Regions from separate parts of the Homo sapiens genome. Here region 2 is linked to region 1. The links come from fine-mapping of genetic effects on gene expression. Tissue or cell type: whole blood. Region 1 holds a variant in brackets; the other region holds the start of a gene. All regions are shown on one strand. Distances are from middle to middle.

What was found.
Region 2: SGK1 starts here. The variant in region 1 is fine-mapped to the expression of SGK1 in whole blood (TOPMed, PIP above 0.99).

What each region holds. Positions count from the first base shown.
Region 1 is chr6:134,266,043-134,271,422 of GRCh38, reverse strand. All of the region lies in intron 1 of SGK1 (serum/glucocorticoid regulated kinase 1), which reads left to right. Among named protein-coding and RNA genes, the nearest start is that of SGK1, 49 kb to the left of the region's middle. The variant T/C (reference allele first, on the strand shown) is at 3,230.
Region 2 is chr6:134,315,257-134,320,636 of GRCh38, reverse strand. It overlaps SGK1 (serum/glucocorticoid regulated kinase 1), which reads left to right and starts at 2,525. Exons shown (of 14, transcript NM_001143676.3): 1 at 2,525-3,245. The coding sequence starts at 3,177. RefSeq lists an enhancer at 2,698-2,977.

The DNA of each region.
Region 1 (5,380 bases):
ATTTTCCTACTTTCTCTTTTTAAAACAATTTTTTATATCTAAAAAAAGTACATATCGAGGAAAGACAAATTCAAACGAAAAGAATGAGTCCCACAATTTTTTTTTTTTTTTGAGACAGTTTCACTCTGCAGACTGGAGTCTAGTGGTGCAATCTCGGCTCACTGCAACCTCCGCCACCTAGGTTCAAGTGATTCTCCTGCCTCAGTCTCCCAAGTAGCTGGAATTACAGGCATGTGCCCCCGCGCCCGACTAATTTTTGTATTTTTAGTAGAGATGGAGTTTCACTATATGTTGGCCAGACTGGTCTCAAACTCCTGACCTTAGGTGATCTGCCTGCCTCGGCCTCCCAAAGCACTGGGACGACAGGCATGAGCCACCGCACCTGGCAGAGTCCCACAATTTAAAGAAATGAGAAAAACTTCACCTGTATTTCCAAAGAAAAACGTACGTTGATGAATTCCTGCACTTTATCTATTTAACACTTGGCAGTGTAGGGTGGGGTGGGGTGGGACAGGGTGGGGTGGATTCCTCAATGGGGAGGATGAGGAGGGAGACTTTATACTTACTGAGCTAGAAGAACAGGCAAGCACTGTCCTCTGAAGAGACGGAGCTGGGGTGCTGCCTGCTGTGAGCAGCAACATTAAATAGGGTACATGGACGCATTGCGTCTCCGTTTTCCCACTTCCCCAGAGTCCTCCCCACCACTCCATCCTCCGGACTAGGCCTGGAGACACAGGTTGGCCCCTGAGAATCTAGAAGAGGATGCAACTAGGTCAAGGTGAGAGGAAAGGACTGGGAGATCCCAAGGACAACAGCATAGAAGGTCAGGGAATTCTAAAAGTCACTCCATCTTCTCAGGGTGCCTGCTCCAGGATAGGTCTTGCGTGTTAAAGAGAAATATTTAAATAGAAAATCTGTATTACCTTGATGGAGGATGTTAGCAAAACTTGTTGAGATCTATAAGTAAATATTAAAAGCAATCAAGAGATTCCTATTTTTATTACCTAGTTTGTTTGTAAGCCCATACACTAGCCTCTGGAATTTTTTTTTTTCCTAAGGCCTAAGAAGCTATTCTCATGCTTATGATCCAGTTGGAAAGGTGACATAGGCTTAATATCAAGACCAGTTAGCATAAAAGTCCTGTTGTTTTATACAAGCAATAAACACTACAAACACTAGAGAAAAGACAGTAATAGGCCTGGTGCGGTGGCTCACGCCTGTAATCCCAACAGGCTTGGGATTGGGAGGCCAAGGTGGATGGATCACCTGAGGTCAGGAGTTCGAGATCAGCCTGACGAACATGGAGAAACCCTGTCTCTACTAAAAATACAAAACTAGCTGGATGTGGTGACACACGTCTGTAATCCCAGCTACTCGGGAGGCTGAAGCAGGAGAATTGCTTGAACCCGGGAGGCGGAGGTTGCAGTGAGCTGAGATCGCGCCATTGCGCTCCAGCCTGGTCAACAAAAGTACAACTCCGTCTCAAAAAAAAAAAAGAGAGAGAGAAAAGACAGATACATGATGATGACATATAGCTGGGGTGAAGATATCTGATTAATATTACTGAATATTACAGCACTGTTATATTTTAGGAGACATGCTATGAAGCAGCTTCAGGCTCCAGTATCAGTGTGAGATGAATTTGCTTCCAGGAGCCTTCTCCTAAATTACACTCATGCCGTAACTAACCTGCTAGCATGCACCCTCTGGGAGAGGCATAGGCATGCAGGTCTCTTACTTTCTCTCTCTCTTTTTTTTTTTTTTTGAGACAGAGTCTCACTCTTTCATCCAGGCTGGAGTGCAGTGGCACGATCTTGGCTCACTGCCACCTCCGGCTCCTGGGTTCAAGGGATTCTCCTGCCTCAGCCTCCCTAGTAGCTGGGATTACAGGTGGACGCCACCATGGTGGCTAATTTTTGTGTTTTCAGTAGAAACGGGGTTTCACCATGTTGGCCAGCCTGGTCTTTAACACCTGGCCTCAAATGATCCACCTGCCTCGGCCTCCACCTCACCTGGCCTCCCTTTTTATAATCTATTGACCTATCCAAGTAATTTCACTAGAAAACTGGGCTGACTCTCTCGAAATTGAAAGTTATTGAGGCGTCAAGTAAGCAAAGTCAGTTCTCTATAATTAAAAAAAAAAAATGCCTGTTTGGAAATTACAGAAGGCAACTTCAAGCTCTCTTGGCTTTTTAAGAGAGTCAGCTCTTCCCCCTAAAAGGACGGGGGCCAATGAGAGTAGGTGTTGCCACCTGAGTTCACACCTAAGTACCTAAACTCTCTATAATTTTCCTGTATCGGTTGATATCATTATCAGCTAAACTATTTTAAATTAATAGTAATATCTGTTTGCTCTTAGATAATAGGAAAAAACCACAAGTGGAAAATCCCTAGAAGCCAGCCAATCTCTTTAATCACATCTGGCAATTTTCTAGACTGAGGGATTGCTTTTGGATGGCTTTTTTTTTTTTTTTTTCCAAGTAAAGACATTAATAAAACCAAGGTGGACTGGATTTAGCAAAGAATTTGGTTGAATATTTTGTTTACCCACTGTTCACTCAGTTTCTGTCTAGTTAAATGAAGGGCCTTACTGGTTCACCCCGGTATCTGTAGAGGTAGTTGCTTCTAAAAGTCTGGTGTGGTTTGGAGAACAGTCTCCTATAAACCCCAAGTGAGGGAATTTTTTTTTTTTTTTTTTTTGAGACAGAGTCTCGCTCTGTCGCCCAGGCTGGAGTGCAGTGGCGCGATCTCAGCTCACTGCAAGCTCCGCCTCCCGGGTTCACGCCATTCTCCTGCCTCAGCCTCCCGAGTAGCTGGGACTACAGGCACCCTCCACTACGCCCGGCAATTTTTTTTGTATTTTTAGTAGAGACGGGGTTTCACCGTGTTAGCCAGGATGGTCTCGATCTACTGACCTCGTGATCCGCCCGCCTCCTCCCAAAGTACTGGGATTACAGGCATGAGCCACAGCGCCCGGCCTGGGAATTCTTGATTTATTCAGGATAAAGAGGATGTCTCACCCCGTCTATGTTTGTTTACAATGCGCTTCACAAACAGTTGTGTAGCTCTGAATAAAACTAGGGCCCAGGTGGCCCAGGAGGCCCAGGAGCCCAGGCTGCCGCTGGCATCCGGGCATTCGTGTTTCTCGCACACACAGCTGCTGCAGCTCTCCTCCAGCCATTGTTATGAAGGGCTCCCAAAGCCACTCACAGTCAGCTACTCCCTCCAG[T/C]AAAGCAATCCGCAGCCTGAGGAAACACAATGGGCCAGTTGTAGCTTGAATTCCCCGAGGGGCCGTGGGAGGATTTCTCTACTCAGCAGTTTTGAAGGGCACCTTGCCTAACTCCTGTGCATTCACTGGGTCGGTCCAGCCACTCTCTCAAGAGCAAGCAAACATCGTAAACTCTGTCCTTAATTGGGCCTGTAAAAATCACTTGTGAGGCTTCAAAGCTGGTGAAAAGTGTCAAGGAGTCATAAAGAAGGGACACGTTGAAGCCAGTATAAGGACTAAGCCAATGGAGACAAAACCTTTTTAAGACAAAGCATGCAGTAAAATTCAGCAACAGTCCGGTTAGAAATGTGTTGCTGGATTCATTTTTGTAAGTAACACTTTTTCTCTGATGCTTCTGGAGAAAGGGAGTATTTCTCCATATCCCTTGCTACATTCTGTGTGGACAGAGAGGGAGTATCCGATAGTATCCTGGCTCATACTGTTTAAAATTGAGCCCTCCACCCGCAATGATCCTGATCATTCATATGCTTTATTTTCCTTCTTACTTATAGTTTACTTATTTTATTAAATAAATAGTATGTCCCTTTAATAATTTTATTCTGGCCAGGTGTAATGGCTCATGTCTGTAATCCCAGAGCTTTGGGATGCCAAGGCAGGAGGATCACTTGAGACCAGGAGTTCAAGACCAGCCTGGGCAACATAATGAGACACCGTCTCTCCAAAAAATAAATAGCCGAACGTGGTGGCGCGCATCTGTAGTCCCAGGTAACTGGGAGGCTGAGGCGAGAGGATAGCTTGAGCCTAGGAGCTCTTGGTTGAAGTGAGCTATGATCGTGCCACAGCCCTCCAACAAAGGGAATAGAGTGAGACTGTATCTCTGTAAAAAAAACCAACCAAACAAACAGAAAAGTCACTATGAACATATTCAGACTGTAACATATTAAAAAAAAGAAAAAGAAAATATAAAAATAAAAAACAAAAAGAAATAAAAATAACATGAAAAAAGAATATTTAAAAAAAATTTTATTTTGTTGGCCATAACTCAAGCTCTAGAGTGCGGGTGTTCAGGGAGTCAGGGGAGATATACATTTCAAGATACAAAGATTCTTAGTCCAGGCATACAACTTACAAATATATTTGAATAGATTTATCATCTGTTTAAATCCTGTTCACAGTAACCCTAAAGTTAAATCTACTTGGCAAAAGAGACATTGAAAGTAAGCCAGAGTAAAAAGATTGATTTTAAACTACAACGTTGGAGACAAAGCAAGAACAGTTACCAGACTTCAAGCCCAAAACTATCTGAATAAGAATAATAAAAAACATTATCCATCTCTAATGAAATTGAACACTTTTTAGACTGATCAAAAACACATTTAGTACTAACATTAAGAAGATACATTCTATTGGAGTCTCAAACTTTTAAAGTTTCATTTAGACTTCCATTAATGAATCAGCGAAACATTCTTAATATACCTACTAACATGCTTAAGGGGCCCTATAGTGACAGAAATATTTAAGGAAACCCAAAATTTTAACTTTAGGATAGTAAACTCAAAAAGATATTTTATTTTTTTTGAGACAGAGTCTCCTTCTTTCACCCAGGCTGGAATGCAGTGCCATGATCTCAGGCTCACTGCAACCTCTGCCTCCGAGGTTCAAGCCGTTCTTCTGCTTCAGCCTCTGGAGCAGCTGGGGTTACGGGTGTGCACCACCACGCCCAGCTAATTTTTGTATTTTTAGGAGAGTCAGGGTTTCACCATGTTGGTCAGGCTGGTCTTGAACTCCTGAGATCAGGTGATCCACACGCCTCAGCCTCCCAAACCCAAAGTGCTGGGATTACAGGTGTGAGCCACCACAACCGGCCTCACAAAGATATTTTAAATGGCTATTGAAAAGAGTACATATAGGCCAGGTGCAGTTGCTCACGCCTGTATTACCAGCCCTTTGGGAGGCTGAGGTGGGTGGATCACCCGAGATCAGGAGTTCAAGACCGGCCTGGCCAACATAGCAAAACCCCGTCTCTACTAAAAATACAAAAATTAGCTGGGCGTGGGGGCACGGTGCCTGTAATTCCAGCCACTCAGGAGGCTGAGGGAGGAGAATCACTTGAACCAGGGAGGAGGAGGCTGCAGTGAGCTGAGATCGCGC
Region 2 (5,380 bases), 49 kb before region 1:
CTTATCCATGGGGGATACATTCCAAGACCCCCCCCATGGATGCGTGAAACTTCAGATAGTACCAAACTCCATATACATTATGTTTTTTCCTGTACATACATACCTATAATAAAGTTTAATTTATAAATCAAGCACAGTAAGAGATTAACAACAATAGTAGAATAATTTTAACAATGTACGATAATAAAAATGATGTGACTGTGGTCTCTCTCTGTGTCTCTAAAAGTATCGTATTGTACTCACTGATTTTCAGACCATTGTTGACCTTAGGTAACTGAAACTGTGGAAGGTAAAACCTCAGATAAGGGAGGACTACTGTATATAGTATTCTTACCACACTGTATATTTCTCTACTAGGCTGTGAGTTCCTTGGTGACAAAAACCAGTGACACTTACATGCACTGGACCTTCCATAGGATCTAGCATAGACCAAGTGACAGTGGCAGCATCTTCAAGAGGTGGCATGGAGTGAGGGAAAAGATAGCATTTAGCTTGTCTTCTCCTCCCTCATAATCTCTATTAACCACCCGCCTGCACCCCAAATGAACATACATCCTACATGAAACCAGGGTATTAGTCCGTTCTCACACTGCTAATAAAGACATAGTGAGATGGGTAATTTATACAGGAAAGAGGTTTAATTGACTCACAGTTCAGCATGGCTGGGGAGGCCTCAGGAAACTTACAATCAGAGCAGAAGGGGAAGCAAACACATTCTTCTTCACATGGCATCAGGAAGGGGAAGTGCTGAGCAAAAGGGAGAAAAGCCCCTTATAAAACCATCAGATCTCATGAGAAATCACTCACTGTGGGAACTACAATTCAAGACGAGATTTGGGTGGGGACACAGCCAAATGATATCAACCAGTATGCATGCTAGGCCAATGTGGGATTAAGCAAAGCCCCAGCACCTCCTTCCTAGCAGAGTGCTTAAAGGTCCCCTCCTGTATATTACTCAAATTCAATAAATGTCTGTTAAAACACTTTTGGGGGAGTGGCAATGGGACGAAAAAGAAAGAACTTGAATGACCATCATTTTTTAAAATGAGGTCCATTGAGGTATAATTTACATGCAGCAAAAGTTTCCCTTTTCCTATATAAAATTTGATGAGTTCTGACAAATGCATAGTTATGTAACCACCACCATCATCATGATAGAGAACACTTCCATCGTCTCAAAATAATTCCCTTTGAACTACCATAATTTTAAATGAACTCTTTAGAAGAACCACAAAAACTTATCAATGTTGTAGATTACATAACATATACTTGCATCTTGGACAACTTAACATATCTCTCCAAAATGAATAGTTGTTTTCCCTTGGTTATCATGCCATCATTTAGTTGTATTGCATTTTCTTTTTGGAAACCTCAAGGCATTTAGCAAACAGGATTTCATGTTTATTCCCAAAAACTCTGGCCCAACTGTAGAGATTTATAGTCCAATTCAATGAAACCCATGCATTTCTTTCCCAGTTTAACCTGATGTTTCTCTTCTTACCAGAGACTTCCATGTAAATACTTTAACAATGTTAGGTGTGTTATATATAATGAGGTCATAATCAGTTTCAAATTAGCATTGCGCCTTTCACTTATTTATCAATTATATTCCCTTGTGATGATTATGAAAAGGCTCCACATCCTGAGGACACTTGTCAGAGTTAGATTTATTAATGGAATGAAATAGCAAATAATGAATGACTAAATAAATGAATGAGTGAATGAATGAATGAGTGGCTGCCTCCATTTTATGGATGAGGCAGTGTCCGAAAGGCACAGTGAGGTCAGGTGATGGCAGAAAGCCACACACCGATGTTGGTGGCTTTCTGCCAGGTCAGATGCCAAGTTTATTTTCTTTGCTTTCTTGCTTTACTATCAACTAATCTTTAAAATCATTCCCATAAAATATCAACATTAAAGAATAAAAATGGAAAAATAAGCCACATACAATTAAATGGCTTTTTTAAAAGGAGCTCAGTGTGCAAAGGATAACATGAGTAAGGATTTTTTGGGAAATTTTTCACCTAATAGGAAGAATGCTTTACTCTTTTATTTATCAAACCTTCCTCATCATTAAATGGATTCAGTAGTACTTTTTGGTAATAACTCGTGTGTGTGTGTATGTGTGTAATAAAGTACTTTGTATATGTTCATTGTGTTCTTTTTTTAATAAGCTGTTTTAATGAAAAAGACACAATTACCGTCACCATTGCCCACTATATAATGACAAGTAGGGGAGGGGAGGCTAAAAGAGCTTCTACATAGTGAGAGATCTTCCATTGTTATACCTACGCTTGCACTTTATTTCATTTTCTTCCACGTTTGGACAGGTCGAGATTAAATGTGATTACATTTCCGTTGAGAGGCTTTTATTCAGCAACAGGATTCAAAAGAATGTCAATGAGCATAAAATAAAAACGGTGTGCAATTTATATGAAACTCTGATTTAAATGGTCCTAACCAAAAAAAAAAAAAAAGAAAGAAAGAAAAGAAGCTATTTAAAGTAACCCTCCCAAGGGGAGTCAACTGCTCTTCAGTGTGCCCTGAGCCGGCTGTGCCTTCTCTCCATCCGCTGCTCAGATATTCATGAACCGTTGCTTCTTCCAGCCTCGCCTTCTCGCTCCCTCTGCCTTTCTGGCGCTGTTCTCCCTCCCTCCCTCTGGCTTCTGCTCTTTCTTACTCCTTCTCTCAGCTGCTTAACTACAGCTCCCACTGGAACTTGCACAATCAAAAACAACTCTCCTCTCTCAAGCCGCCTCCAGGAGCGCATCACCTGGAGAAGAGCGACTCGCTCCCCGCGCCGGCCGCGGAAGAGCAGCCAGGTAGCTGGGGGCGGGGAGGCGTACCCTTCTCCCGCTCGGTAAGAGCCACAGCATCTCCCCGGAGATTGGCCGTATCCCACCGTCCGGCCCCCAGGGTCCTGCAGCGGTGATGCATATGTTTCGGAGCAATGATGGAAGGAGAAAAGCCGCTGTCGGTGGCAACTGAAAGTGGGGAGAGGTTGCTGCAGTAGCTGGTGCTGCAGAATGCGCGAGTGAAGAACTGAGCCCCGCTAGATTCTCCATCCCGCTCAGTCTTCATTAACTGTCTGCAGGAGGTAAACCGGGGAAACAGATATGCACTAACCAGGCGGGTGCCAACCTGGATCTATAACTGTGAATTCCCCACGGTGGAAAATGGTAAACAAAGACATGAATGGATTCCCAGTCAAGAAATGCTCAGCCTTCCAATTTTTTAAGAAGCGGGTAAGGACAGGTTTTGCTTATTTCTTTTGTTTTCTGTGCTTCTCTTAAATGCTTTTGAATGTTTGCCTGAAGTAAGCCTGAGGTTTTGTTGCTAAACCCTTAATGTAAGCCGTGCTTCTGATGGCAGTGGTAAAGCTGAGAACTATACCTGACTTGATTAGAATTTGTTGGAGGAGGGGCAGGGGGCTATGAAGAGTTGCATTGGGAGGAGGGGGTTGGGCTGAGATGCCTTAAACGGGTTTGAGCTGGGAATGGGGATTTTTCTCTCTCAAGCCACAACAAAGATTACAAGGCAGTCGCAAAGAGAACTGGCTTGAGTACAATTATGGCTAGTAATTTAGTCAGGGGCTAATTTAGCAGCTTCCTCTCATCTTTGAAGGGTTCAACTTTTCTACACCTTTCATCCACTCAGTCTCAAGTGATGCATTATCATCTTCGTTCGTCAGAAGCAGCAGCTTCTGGTTTCCCAAATCCATTCAGCCAATAATTTGCTGTGTCTCTATCTGTGGTATAAATAGCAAAGGAGTAGAATGACCTTTTACAGAAATGATGGAATCCAGCATTTAAAATTGTCTATTTTAAGTTGCCTCAATTTTTGCTTTTGCTTAGAATAACTGCCTTTTTTTTTTTTTTTTTTTTTTTTTTTTTGGGAGAGAGCAGTGGGAGGTCTGTATTTGAGTGATAATTCAGGGTTATGTTGCTGTATGCATTTATTTCTTAAACTCCTTATTCTTCAACTCAAAGTATGAATAATGTTGCATTGGTTGTAGGTGAGAAAAAAGGATTTTTTTGCATGTATATTTCACAATAAACTCAGTTCACTGGGATGGCCACACTGGTGGTCTGTGTAAATCTGCAAATTTATACACAAGCGGGAGGTAAGAAATGAATGATTGTTAAAGGAATGACACTGACACTCTTAAGGACAGTGTTTCCTAAGCAACGTAAGAGAAGGAACATCCTCCAGTCCCCAGTTGCCCCATCCTATTTAATACCCTAGGGCAATTCCACCAAAATGGTTCTCTCCATTCATTCCTCCTTCCTTTCATTCAGGTCCTTTCTGTGCCACTCCTGAAACACAGCCCTTCAGTTAACTCATCCGCAGAACACAGTGAATTTCAGGGTGGGCTGGACTATCTCCCTGCACCAAATGGGCAAGCTGGGAAGGCAAGGCTAGAAATGCAGGCAACATGTCAGGCCCAGCTAGAGGGCCAGCGAAGGCTCCCAAGCACCCTTGACTGAGTTCTCATCAGTAAAGCAAAATCTTTCTCCAAGTCTGTGGGCCAAAGCATATGCATTCAAACCAAAATGAAACCAACCTGTCCTGGCCCCTGCTCTTGGAGTGGGAGTACCATGTGAAATCTCACTAGTGAGCTGCAAGCTAAGTGAAAGCAAGTCAGTGCAACTTCACAGAGCTCCACAAGGCTTCTTAGTTTTTCTCTGTAGCTAAAATATTTCTTTCCAAGGGAAGAGCCCTTTATGAAAATTAATTTTCTTTCTTTCTTTTTCTTTTTTTTAGAGACGGGGTCTTGCTATATTGCCCAGGGTGGTCTTGACCTTTTGGGCTCAAGTGGTCCTCCTGCCTCAGCCTCCCAAATTGCTGGGATTACAGATGTCCACCACCAGGCCCAGCCCTAATTTTCAATAATAAACAAATGTTTTGCTAATTTTAAAAATGCCATAGCCCATTATCCAGTATTTAAACTCTATTGCCTTTTAATTACTGTATTTATTTCATGGTATTGGGGATATTCTAAAACTCCTCAGTCAGATGTTCTTAAGCAATGTAGATTTAAGTTACATAAATTTTAAATTGTCTTTTATTTTCTTTGTTATCAAAATGTACTAATAGAAATACTAATTTGCCATTTGGTTTTGTTTTGCTTAAAAGCAAGTTTACCAATAGACTTCAGTTGGTGACTCTGCAGACCTTGAATTTTGCAGAGAACCACCCAGGGTACTGATGTCTTATCTGAGTACATGCAGAAAGAAGTTTCTACCAAGATAACTGGCAGGCAGCTTCATCTAACTTCTAACCTGGGTCTATCAGTTGCTGGAGACAGGATCAGACATCTCTCCTGCCCCTGCGCTCTCCTTACTCCTCAAGGACAGTTAACTAAGTAGAAGGTGACCTT